3 separate regions of the Homo sapiens genome follow, and all the other regions are linked to region 1. Evidence: fine-mapped expression QTL. A gene starts in region 1. Each other region holds a variant in brackets. All regions are shown on one strand. Distances are from middle to middle. Region 1 holds the start of LYSMD1 (LysM domain containing 1). Region 2 overlaps GABPB2 (GA binding protein transcription factor subunit beta 2). Region 3 overlaps GABPB2 (GA binding protein transcription factor subunit beta 2).

The links. PIP is the estimated chance that this variant, and not a neighbour inherited with it, causes the effect.
Region 2: its variant is the best candidate, but not a certain one, in a credible set for the expression of LYSMD1 in tibial artery (GTEx, PIP 0.68).
Region 3: its variant is the best candidate, but not a certain one, in a credible set for the expression of LYSMD1 in whole blood (INTERVAL, PIP 0.55).

Annotation. Positions count from the first base shown.
Region 1 is chr1:151,164,150-151,168,246 of GRCh38, reverse strand. It overlaps LYSMD1 (LysM domain containing 1), which reads left to right and starts at 2,345. Exons shown (of 3, transcript NM_212551.5): 1 at 2,345-3,168. The coding sequence starts at 2,989. TNFAIP8L2-SCNM1 (TNFAIP8L2-SCNM1 readthrough) reads right to left here. Exons shown (of 7, transcript NR_144937.2): 2 at 1,706-1,776; 3 at 1,225-1,313; 4 at 1,029-1,126; 5 at 833-921; 6 at 1-98. SCNM1 (sodium channel modifier 1) reads right to left here and starts at 2,103. Exons shown (of 7, transcript NM_024041.4): 1 at 2,044-2,103; 2 at 1,706-1,776; 3 at 1,225-1,313; 4 at 1,029-1,126; 5 at 833-921; 6 at 1-103. The coding sequence starts at 2,094. RefSeq lists enhancers at 2,055-2,104, 1,451-2,157, 2,125-2,404, 2,158-2,863.
Region 2 is chr1:151,123,621-151,127,717 of GRCh38, reverse strand. It overlaps GABPB2 (GA binding protein transcription factor subunit beta 2), which reads right to left. Exons shown (of 9, transcript NM_144618.3): 9 at 2,176-4,097. Among named protein-coding and RNA genes, the nearest start is that of SEMA6C, 21 kb to the left of the region's middle. The variant G/A (reference allele first, on the strand shown) is at 2,359.
Region 3 is chr1:151,075,066-151,079,162 of GRCh38, reverse strand. All of the region lies in intron 1 of GABPB2 (GA binding protein transcription factor subunit beta 2), which reads right to left. Among named protein-coding and RNA genes, the nearest start is that of GABPB2, 6.4 kb to the right of the region's middle. The variant C/T (reference allele first, on the strand shown) is at 2,127.

The DNA.
Region 1 (4,097 bases):
GCCAGCCGCAGGTTCAGGTTCCCTACTGATCTTCCCACTTTGGAGTTTGACCTCTGAGGGTGGCATAGGGGAAAGGGAGACAGAGGGACCAGGGGCTTCTGGTCTAGGTAGAGAAGAATAGTCTGTAAAAGCAGTAAGGGAAAGGGCCAACTCTCCTATGACTCCCAACCTCTTAAAACAGTGCTTCTTAAACTATATTTCTCAAGATATTAATAAGTTCTGCATACAAAGGATTTCAGAATCATGAATTTGGGAAAGGCTAGCTTAAAATTTTACAAGTTTTTTTTAATCTTAAGACTTTGTATAGTTTTTAAAACTGTTATTCTTCAAGTAGAATTACAAAGTGCCATTTCCCAAACTTTATTTAAAAATCACAAAATTCTCCTTTTCTTTTTCTTTCTTTTCTTTTTTTTTTGAGATGGAGTCTCACTCTGTCACCCAGGCTGGAGTGAAGTGGTGTGACCGTGGCTCACTGCAACCTCTGTCTCCCGGATTCAAGCAATTCTCCTGCCTCAGCCTCTTGAGTAGCTGGGATTACAGGCACACACCACACACCCAGCTAATTTTTTACATTTTTGGTAGAGACAGGATTTCACCATGTTGGCCAGGCTGGTCTTGAACTCCTGACCTCAAGTGATCCACCCACCTCAGCCTCCAAAAGTGCTGGGATTACAGGCGTGAGTCACCGCGCCCAGCCAAAATTCTCCTTTTCTTGAAACACTAAGTAACATCTCCAGAACACTAGTATTCCTCAGAATACACACTGGAAAACTCTTTTAGAGCCATCTGTCTCCTTCTGAGCCTTCCTACCTCTGGCTTTCCCGTCCCATACCTGTACTTCCGGCGGCAGCAACTGTTATAGTGGGGAGCTCTGTGCAGAGCACTCTGGGTGATAAGTCGTGTCTGAGTTAGCAGAGGAGCCTGGTAAGGAGATGGGAGACAGAGTCAGAGCCTTCAGCCCTCCGCCCTTCCAGCCTGGTGTGTGCAGCAGGGTCTTGCCTAGAACACACTCTCCACTCTCTGATTACCTCAGCTTTGGTTTCTTCCCTTCTCAATTCATTCTGATGTTTTGGATTCTGCTTTCTTTCCTTTCCCGGCTGCTTCTTGCCATAGAAAAGCTGCAAGCCTGAGGAGAAAGGGAAACAGAATTAAAAGCATAGCACCAAGAGTGGTGTGCAGAGATTTCGAGGGTTTATTCCCCATCCCGTCTTCCCCCTAACTTACTGGACAGATGTTTCTTGCCTGCACGGTGGGCAGTCAGCATGGCCAGGGTGTCCAGTACCGGTCGATGGGGGCAGATGGCACAAGCAAAGCTGAGCAGGGGTAGAGAAGAGGATAAGTGGTCCAGGGGAAGAGGGTTGGGCCCGTCCCTGCCATAGGTCCCACCCTGTCCTAGCAGTCTTTGCAAAACCCAACTCCCTGGTGACCCAATCTCCACTTCTTCCAGTCCTCACTGGCCGCCAAAGAATCCTAGGTACTCCTGCTGTCCTAATTAATAACAAAAGTTTGTTGAAGCCAGGCGTGGTGGCATGCGCTTGTAAACCCAGCTAATCGCGACGCTGAGGAGGCAGGATCACTTGAGCCCTAGAGTTCGAGGGCAGCCTGGGCAGCACCGCGAGACCTCCGTCTCAAAGGAAAAAAAAAAAAAAGTCTATTGAGCCTCTAACCGCAGAACCCTCAGGCTTGAGCCACTCCTTGCTCTTACCGTCCATCCCGAAGCATCAGCGCCTCATCCTCTGGAATGTAACTGGCTAGGAGGTCCCCGACTCTTCTTTTCTGCAGGGAGTAGGGGAAGAAATCCGGACGGGATCAGCGGGATAGGAGAGAGGGGTGGAAGTGAAATTATAGAAATGAGGAGTGAAATGGAATAAGGACCCTGGGGAGAACAGCGATCATAGACCGAAAAAGGAGTCACTACACAGCTCTAAGTCGCCTGGTTCTCTCCTGCACCCCCGAGTTGTTGCCAGAGCAATGAAACAAAGCTCCTTCCCAACCTTCAGGGAGCGACTGAAGCGGCTCCAGATCCTCTCCGCTCACGCTTACTTTGAGCACATTGAGTTGACTCCAATCGTCTCCTTCCCTCTTGAAAGACATCACGACTGTGAGTCCCAGAAGTGATAAATTCTCTGTTCCGGTTTCGCCACTCCTCCAGGCCACCGTAGCAAGAGCGGGACAGCGCCTTCTCTTTTTTCCTTCTCTTCCTGTCGGCCTCCGTACTTCCGGGGACGCACTTCCACGCATGCATTGCGCGATCCGGAAATCCACTCTCTGGTGCTCGGAGGGAACTGCATTTCCTATGGTGCCCTGCGACTCCGCAGACGCGGAGCCTTTTGGGAAATGAAGTCTTTTCTCAAAGACCTTGCCGCTCAACTGGATCCAGGCCCTTGCATCTTGGCGGATCTGAGGCGTTTGGAGGGACAACAACCTAGATGTGGAGCCGAAATTTGAGGGTGTGACCTATCTTATGCGGAGCGGACCTTTGAGGATCTCTGAGTGGAAGGTGTACTACAAATTCTTGCAATCCTCACGCTCTTCGTCTGCGGCGACAGTTCACCTGGGGTGGGCCTGATTTGTTCCTGACTCTAGCAAACAAACCCCGGGACCGGGGAGAGCTGGGATGTTGGAGCGCCCTGAGGCCAGGCTACTTGGGGGCAAACTGAGGAAAGAGTGTTGAGGATTATTTCTAGAGTTCAAAGGTCAGAGGTCAATGTAGCGAGGAGTTGTGGGGGAGTCCAAAGTCGGAGGGGTGCTTAGGGGAGAATTAGGGAGGGACTGAATACTCAAGGGACAGATTTGTGGATAAGTAGCTTGGAGGGAGGAGAAACCGGGAGGGGGCAGATGGCGTAGTGCTGGGGAGGCGGGGACACAGGGGAAGAGAGAGGGGGAAAGGAATCCCCTGAATATTCATTCCCAGACTTCAGGCCTGTCAGTCGCAGTCTCGGTCGTACCTCCCCTAGTTGCAACCTTAGCTGTTGGCAGGGTGAAGAGATGGCTTCCCCGTCTAGACAGCCCCCGCCAGGGGGGTCAGGACTGCTTCAAGGGAGCCGGGCTCGTTCATATGGAAGCCTGGTGCAATCGGCCTGCTCCCCAGTGAGGGAAAGACGCCTGGAGCATCAGTTGGAGCCCGGAGACACCCTGGCTGGACTAGCACTCAAATATGGGGTGACGGTGAGTTTTCCAGGATTGGGGTGAAGACAACAGTCAGGAGGGATTTAGTCCTGAGAAGAATGTAGTGGCCCTTCTAGGTAACCTCCCCTGAAATGTTCCTAATGTGTTGCACTCTGTTCTGCCTTTATCTTTGTTTTCCCATCACAGTGTTGCACAAGTCCTGCCCTACTATTCCAACGGAGAGGAACAGCTCCTATTTTATTATGCCAGACACTGTGCTGAGGGCTTCACATACGTTAGCTCATTTCACCCTCACATCTGTATCAAGTATACATTTATCGTTCCCTTTTGGCAGATGAAGAAACTGAGACTTGGATTGGTTAACCAGTTTGGCTAAGGTCAAATAATGAGCGTCAGATTTGGGATTCAAACAGGTCTGTCTGACTCTATTAACCACACAGAAAATTTTATGTTGAGAGTGATTAAACGTTTACAGCAACTAATGGAGAGCTGATTTTTAGTTCTCAGTTCCTAAAGTGCCCACCTCTCCTTGCTCTTGGTTCCTCCTCAATGCTCTGCCTTCTTTCCAGTAAGGTGGCCTCCTTTGTGCAAAACAGGTACTCTACACCAAGTATTTCAGGTCATGCATGGGGGAAATTGGATAGATGTAAAAATGTACAGCATTGAAGTTGATGGGGTTACTCCCCCTATCCCTGCCCCTGTTTTCTTGTTCCATCTCACTCAAACAAATGTTGAATTTAGCCAACATTTTTATGCTTGCTGTATTTAAAGCACTGTGATAACTTTTCTGGGAGATAGAAACTTAAACTATATGGTTGCTGTCCTCATGTAATTTATGGCCTAATGAGAAATGAACAGGGACACAAATAATGATTACAAGTGACAGAATGTGGTGAGTTTGTAAAGGTATTAACAACGAATAGGGGTCAGGCATGGTGGCTCACCCCTGTAATCCCAGCACTTTGGGA
Region 2 (4,097 bases), 41 kb after region 1:
AAAAAAAAAAGGACAATTTTTACAAGTGTGTGACTCTGCAAAGTCAACCTATTTTTACAACTATATGATGAGGATAATACTCACCTTACAAGATGGGTATTTATATGTATATGCAGAGTACCTAGCACATTGCCAGACATGTAGCAAAAGCTTAAAACATGGTGGCTATTGTTATTTATAATTTTGGGCCCTTTCCCAAACTTTCCTTTCCTTTACAGCACTACCCTTAAACTTTAGGACTGGTTATAGGAGCAGACTGCAACCCCACACTTTTGTTCAGAAGTCTCCCATAGTCTTAACTTACTCAATTACCTATCAAATGTCTTGCACAAGCCTTACACAGGTGTAGTTATCACTGGGTTGCTCCCACTTCAGCCTTCACCTGTATTTTTTACCTATTGATCTCCTTGGAGTAGAGGGTTCTTTTTTACAGAGGAAGGAAGTCTTAGGAAAGTTGCCCTAGTTCATAATTTTTCCCATTACTTAAGACTATCACCCAGCCGGGCACGGTGGCTCACACCTGTAAGCCCAGCACTTTGGGAGGCCAGTGCGGGTGGATCACCTGAGGTCAGGAGTTCAAGACCAGCCTGGCCAACATGGTGAAACCCCGTCTCTACTAAAAATACAAAAATTAGCTGAGTGTAGTGGTGCATGCCTGTAATCCCAGCTAATAGGGAAGCTGAGGCAGGAGAATCACTTGAACCTGGGAGGCAGAGGCTGCAGTGAGCCAAGATCATGCCACCGCACTCCAGCCTGGGCAACAGTGTGAGACTCTGTCTCAAAAAAAAAAAAAAAAAAAAAAGAGTATCACCCATCAGAGAACTCTAGGTTCCTATCTCTCTAGTTCCCTCCAACTTTCCCATCTTGATGATTTCTCTCACCAGGATTTAATTCAACAAGATTTTTAGTTCTTTGGTTCTTAAGGCTCCACAAGTTCCTGCTTTTTTTTCTGTCAGCACAGCCAAGACTATATATATTAATAAAGTACCTGCCAGAATTACTTTCTATTACTTGAATATGTGCACAGCATTTGCTGACTATATGTATTTACCAAAAAGAAATTATCTACATGTACCCTAGTACATGGTAGGTGTCCAATTTCCTAAATATTGACTTTGAGAACTTACTTGAGATTCCAGTCGCTGAACACAGATGCTTATATGTCCTTAGCTTTGGACAGGCTCAAAGCTAATTTTGTAAAGAAAGGTATCCTTCTTGCCAACAAAACAGCTTTTCAGAACTCTATACACTAGATAGGATACCCATCTTGCTAGTCAAATTGGTCTGTTCACCCCGGCTATCAATGGGGATTGTGCTACTATCAGACTGATCCTCCTATTTTTAAATATAAATGTGTGCTGATTTTGGACTAAGATAGCAGCAAGCACCCTATTAACCAAGAATAGCTGAGAAGCTGGCAAAGTAAATCTACTCTTTCCAAGCACTCCTGAGTCTGATGTTTTTCCCCATACGTCTCAGTATTGACTTTACTCCCACACAAGGCACATAATCATTTTCTTCAGCTACTTTTCTCCTCCCTTGGTTGTTTGCTTTTAGGGAAGGGAGTGGGGAATGAGAGAAAGAAGGAAAATGTACATTTAACAAGCTGGTCAAAAGCTCTCCTCATTCTCATTTCATTTCTTACCTCAACTTGCTCTGCCTGTCAAGAATACCAGGCTGAGAGCGGTGGATAAGGAAAAGGCAATGGCCATGCATGGGTTAGTAGATCTATACCCCTCCCCCTTCAGTTAGCTCAGTTGGACAGGGAAAATGAGCTCTGTGGTTCACCTGTCATTAGAGAATAGATACAAATTTGGCCGGGCTCGGTGGCTCACGCCTGTAATCCCAGCACTTTGGGAGGCCGAGGCGGGCGGATCACGAGGTCAGGAGATCGAGACCATCCCGGCTAAAACGGTGAAACCCCGTCTCTACTAAAAATACAAAAAAATTAGCCGGACGTAGTGGCGGGCGCCTGTAGTCCCAGCTACTTGGGAGGCTGACGCAGGAGAATGGCGTGAACCCGGGAGGCGGAGCTTGCAGTGAGCCGAGATCCCGCCACTGCACTCCAGCCTGGGCGACAGAGCGAGACTCCGTCTCAAAAAAAAAAAAAAAAAAGAGAATAGATACAAATTTTGCCCAGGAGATGAAAACAAATTCAATGACACCCTGAAATGGTCGGCTTTGACATTTTATTGAGAAACATTTTTATTTTAAATGATAGTACAAAAACTGTATATATAATATAGATCTGTATAAGTATATATACATACAAATGCTCATACACACATATACACACAAACTTGCTCATCAGAATAAAACCCTAAATAAAGAAGTATATTTAAGTTTTTCTAAAAATAC[G/A]CTGTACATAAAGCTGTCAGACAACCTGAAAAACTGAGGACATTGTGAGAACAGTCTGGGCGCATCCCCCCACACACACACCTGCCGCAGTACACACACAAATGGCCTTGACAGAAGGACAGCACATGGGGCAAGGTCAGGGAGAGAGCTGCTACCATCATTGTTGCTAGAACAAGATGTCTAAAGCCAACTAGAAAGCACAGGATATAGAAGGTGACCTAGATTAACTTTCAGAAACAAACCACCTCAGAATAAACAAAAAATATGTGGTAGGGAAGGAGGGGAACGGAGAGAGAAAAGACAAGGCCCAGAGATTAGAAATGACCTACTAACTAAATTCGAATGCCTGGGAAAGCCTCAATGAGATAGGAACAATGGAATCACAAAAGCAGAAAAGGTAGGAGGAGGGGGAGATAGGGAATCACAATTTCCTGTCACTAACATGCCAAACTGCTACTGTAGAGTCTAGGAATGTCACCTCACCCCCTAATACTAAAGAGGCTAAAAAATAAGACAAAAATTTAAAAAGGGCAGCATCAGAGACTTAAAAAAAATTGGCATAGGAAATAATAGTACTACTCAGAAGGGGTAGTACTTCTGAGATATAGTCACCACATAAAATAGAGACAGATAAGAGCCTAGAGTGCATACAGGTGGTCATCACATATAGTCCATTCTGAAGTTCCTTTTCTAGCTATCCAGAGATGGGTTTGCACAAGGAGTAGAGAAGAGGAAGCCTTCTCTAATAAATTAGGACAAAAACTGATTCCCACTCCATATTAAACTTTCAGGAAGAGTTCAGTAAATGCATCAAATTTTCCAGCTCTGGAGGTCTGTAATGATAGGAGAGAGCCACACAAGCTTTCTTAAAATGGTCATCATCATACTGGTGAGAAAAAAAAAAAAAAAAAGAGGCTGGGCGTGGTGGCTCACACCTGTAATCCCAGCACTTTGGGAGGCCAAGGAGGGTGGATCACGAGGTCAGGAGTTCGAGACCAGCCTGGCCAATATGGTGAAATCCCGTCTGTACTAAAAATACAAAAATTAGCGCGTGCCTGTAATCCCAGCTACTTCAGAGGCTGAGGCAGAAGAATCGCTTGAACCCGGGAGACAGAGGTTGCAATGAGCCAAGATCATGCCACTGCGCTCCAGCCTGGGTGACAGAGAGAGACTCTGTTTAAAAAAAAAAAAAGAAAAGAAAAAAGAAAAAAAAATCATTTCTCAAACTGATATTTCTTTTTTTCCTTTTTCTTTCTTTTTTTTTTTTTTGTGAGCCACCGCGCCCGGCCTCTTTTTTTTTTTTTTTTTTCTCACCAGTATGATGATGCGCCACCACCCCCGGCTAATTTTTGTATTTTTAGTAGAGACTGAGTTTCACCACGCTGGCCTGGCCTCAAGTGATCCTCCCATCTCGGCCTCCCAAAGTGCTGGGATTACAGGCGTGAGCCACCATGTCTGGCCAGCAGCTTTACTTATTTTATTTTATTTTATTTTATTTTATTTTTTGAGACCGAGTCTCATTCTGTTGCCCAGGCGATCTGTTGCAGTGGGGCGATCTCAGCTCACTGCAAGCTCTGCCTCCTGGGTTCACGTCATTCTCCTGCCTCAGCCTCCCGAGTAGCTGGGACTACAGGCACCCACCACCACGCCCGGCTAATTTTTTGTATTTTTAGTAGGGCCAGGGTTTCACTGTGTTAGCCAGGATGGTCTCAATCTCCTGACCTCGTGATCCACCTGCC
Region 3 (4,097 bases), 89 kb after region 1:
TTTAAAGCCCTATTTCTTACTATATAGAGATATAATTAAACTTTGGGATTAGAATGTAAATAGGGTGCTATATTTACCTCCTAATATAAGAAAGATATAGAAATGCGTTCTTCAAGGCTATTTTCTCCTCCTATCCTCAGTTACTCTTTTGAGTTAACCTGAAGCATCCATCTTAAGAAAAAGTAAAATGTAGCCAGGCACAGTGGCTCACGACTGTAATCCCAGCACTTTGGGAGGCAGAGGCAGGCGGGTCACTTGAGGGCAGGAGTTGGAGACCAGCCTGGCCAACATGGTGAAATCCCGCCCCTACTAAAATACAAAATTTTACTACCCCGCCTGTACTAAAAATACAAAAATTAGCCAGGTGTGGTGGTGCACGCCTGTACTCCCAGCTACTCAGGAGGCTGAGGCAGGAGAATCACTTGAACCTGGGAGGCAGAGGTTGCAGTGAGCCAAGATTGTGCCACTGCCCTCCAGCCTGGGTAACAGAGCGAGACTGTCTCAAACAAACAAACAAACAAAAACAAAAAAAGAAAAAGTAAAATGAATTTTTTTTTCTATTTTTTTTTTGAGACGGAGTCTTGCTCTGTGGCCCAGGCTAGAGTGCAGTGGCGCGATCTCGGCTCACTGCAAGCTCCGTCTCCCGGATTCATGCCATTCTCCTGCCTCAGCCTCCTGAGTGGCTGGGACTACAGGCACCCGCCACCATGCCCGGCTAATTTTTTGGATTTTTAGTAGAAGCACGGTTTCACCGTGTTAGCCAGGATGGGCTCGATCTCCTGAACTCGTGATCCGCCCGCCTTGGCCTCCCAAAGTGCTGGGATTACAGGCGTGAGCCACCGCGCCCAGTGTAAAATGAATTTTTATTCTTACTCTTTTTTTTTTTTTTTCGAGTTGAAGTCTCACTCTGTCTCACCCAGGCTGGAGTGCAGTGGTGTGATCTCGGCTCACTGCAGCCTCCACCTCTCAGGTTCAAGCAATTCTCCTGTCTCAGCCTCCTGAGTAGCTCGGACTACAGGCTCGTGCCACCACAACTGGATAATTTTGTATTTTTAGTAGAGACAGGATTTCACCATGTTGGTCAGGCGAGGCTTGAACTCCTGACTTCAGGGGATCCACCTGCCTCAGCCTCCCAAAGTGCTGGGATTACAGGCGTGAGCCACCGTGCCCGGCCTTTATTTTTATTATTCTAAAGAAAATTATTATTTTTTGAGACTGAGTCTTGCTCTGTTGCCCAGGCTGGAGTGCAATGGTGTGATCTTGGCTCACTGCACCCTCAGCCTCCTGGGTTCAAGCGATTCTCCTGTCTCAGCCTTCTGAATAGCTAGGATTAGGTGGCACGTGCCACCATGCCCGGCTAATTTTTGTATTTTTAGTAGAGACAGGGTTTCACCATGTTGGTCAGGCTGGTCTTGAACTCCTGACCTTGTGATCCACCTGCCTCGGTTTCCCAAAGTGCTGGGATTACAGGCGTGAGCCACTGCGCCTGGCCTCTCTTTTTTTTTTAAAGCTGAGCCCAGCCATGGGTTTATACCCTCAAATACCTATGAGTGGCCGGGCGCGGCGGATCACAAGGTCAAGAGAACAAGACCATTCTGGCCAACATGGTGAAACCCTGTGTCTACTAAAAATACAAAAATTAGCTGGGCGTGGTGTTGCATGCCTGTAGTCCCAGCTACTCAGGAGGCTGAGGCAGAAGAATCACTTGAATCCGGGAGGTAGAGGCTGCAGTGAGCCGAGATTGCGCCACTGCACTCCAGCCTGGTGAGAGAGTGAGACTCCATCTCAAAAAAAAAAAAAAAAAAACCTATGAGTTGGATAAATTCCTCCCCTCCTGAGGTCCCAGGATAATGTGGGGCTCCTGGGCCTGTCAGAAAGTCAGAAAGTGACACTCTTTACTTACCACAGATCAGGAACCCTGTACAGGGACTTTAGACAAGGTATGAGGCCAGTTTTCCCAACGGGCTTTAATTGGCTTTGTAAGTCTTATGTGAGATTCCTTTTACGGAACAAAGTTCTTTCAAAGCCAATTTAAAAAGCCTATGTGAAAAATCATTATTCTTGCTGCACTTTATACAAATAATCAGACCAAGTGTAATCCCAGCACTTTGGGAGGCCCAGGAGGG[C/T]GGATCACGAGGTCAGGAGATTGAGACCATCCTGGCTAACACAGTGAAACCCCGTCTCTACTAAAAATACAAAAAATTAGCCGGGTGTGGTGGCAGGCACCTGTAGTCCCAGCTACTCGGGAGGCTGAGGCAGGAGAATGGCATGAACCCAGGAGGTGGAGCTTGCAGTGAGCCGAGATTGCGCCACTGCACTCCAGCCTGGGCGACAGAGTGAGACTCCATCTCAAAAAAAAAAAAAAAAATCAGACCAAGTTTAATAAAGCCAATCTATTTTACCATGATTTGCCTTTAGTAAAAATGGGAGACTGGCAAGGCACAGTGGCTCACACCTGTAATCCCAGCACTTTGGGAGGCTGAGGCGGGTGGATCACCTGAGGTCAGGTGTTCGAGACCAGCCTGGCCAACATGGTGAAAGCCCGTTTCTACTAAAAATACAAAAATTAGCCGGACGTGGTGGCATATGCCTGTAATCCCAGCTACTCCGGAGGCTGATGCAGGAGAATTGCTTGAACCCAGGAGGCAGAGCTTGCAGTGAACCAAGATTGTGCCACTGCACTCCAGCCTAGGTGACTGAATAAGACTCTGTCTCAAAAAATAAAAAAAATAAAAATTCTAGTCTCATCAGTTGTTTTTAAGTTTTTTTCTGCAACTTAGATTAACTCTGCTTATTCCTGTGAACCAACCAGTGATCTCTGGCTGCTGCTCACAAGAAACAAAAGGAATGGGTAATGTAAAAATCTGGATCAATATTCTAATTCTGGGCACATACTGGAATCAGCTAGTAACCCCAAATCAGCTTGGTTCCAACAGTTGCCCAGTTCATGGAAAACCTTCTTATTTAATTTACTTGGGATAGTTTTGCTTATTTTGCTTTACTGTTGAGGAGTATATTGCTGTTGTACTCTTTGTGTAGGAATGCAGGATAAGCTTACTGAATGTTTTCTTAAACTGAACACCTTTTAATCTTCCAGATATCACCTTTTGTTGGAGTTATGAATAGCTCTCACCATACTGATGCTTTCTGACTGAGCTCCTCTCTGAACCCTGAATACAAGAGACCCTAAGAGTCAGGCAGGAATATCATCGCCCCTATTCACCCTGAAAAAGTTACAGAAGATGGATCTTTATTTCTTTGTAACCCCTAGGATTAAGGGTTCTCTAATAAAAGGGATGGGAGAAATGTCAGAGGTGTTTGAACCAGAGCAACTCCATCTTGCATAGGAGTTGGGTGAAATAAGGCTGAGACCTACTGGGCTGCATTCCCATTAAGGCATTCTTTTTTTGTTTTGTTTTGTGTTTTTTTGGGTTTTTTTGGGGGGGGTTTTTTTGAGATGAAGTCTCGCTCTGTTGCCTAGGCTGGAGTCCAGTGGTGCAGTCTCAGCTCGCTGCAACTTCCGCCTCCCAGGTTGTAGCGATTCTCCTGTCCCAGTCTCCCACCTGGCTAAATTTTTTTTTTTTTTTTTTTTTTTTTTTGAGACAAAGTCTCGCTCTGTCGCCCAGGCTAGAGTGCAGTGGCACAATCTCGGCTCACTGCAAGCTCCGCCTCTTGGGTTCACGCCATTCTCCTGCCTCGGCCTCCCGAGTAGCTGGGACTACAGGCGCCCGCCACCATGCCCGGCTAATTTTTTGTATTTTTAGTAGAGATGGGGTTTCACCATGTTAGCCAGGATGGTCTCGATCTCCTGACCTCGTGATCTGCCCTCCTGGGCCTCCCAAAGTGCTGGGATTACAGGCATGAGCCACCGTGCCCGGCCAATTTTTTGTATTTTTAGTACAGATGGAGTTTCACCGTGTTAGCCAGGATGGTCTTGATCTCCTGACCTCTGCCCGCCTCAGCCTCCCAAAGAGCTGGGATTACAGGCATGAGCCACTGCGCCTGGCCCTTGTTTTGTTTTTTGAGACTGTCTCACTCTGTCGCCCAGACTGGAGTGCGGTGGCACGATCTCGGCTCGCCACAACCTCTGCCTCTAA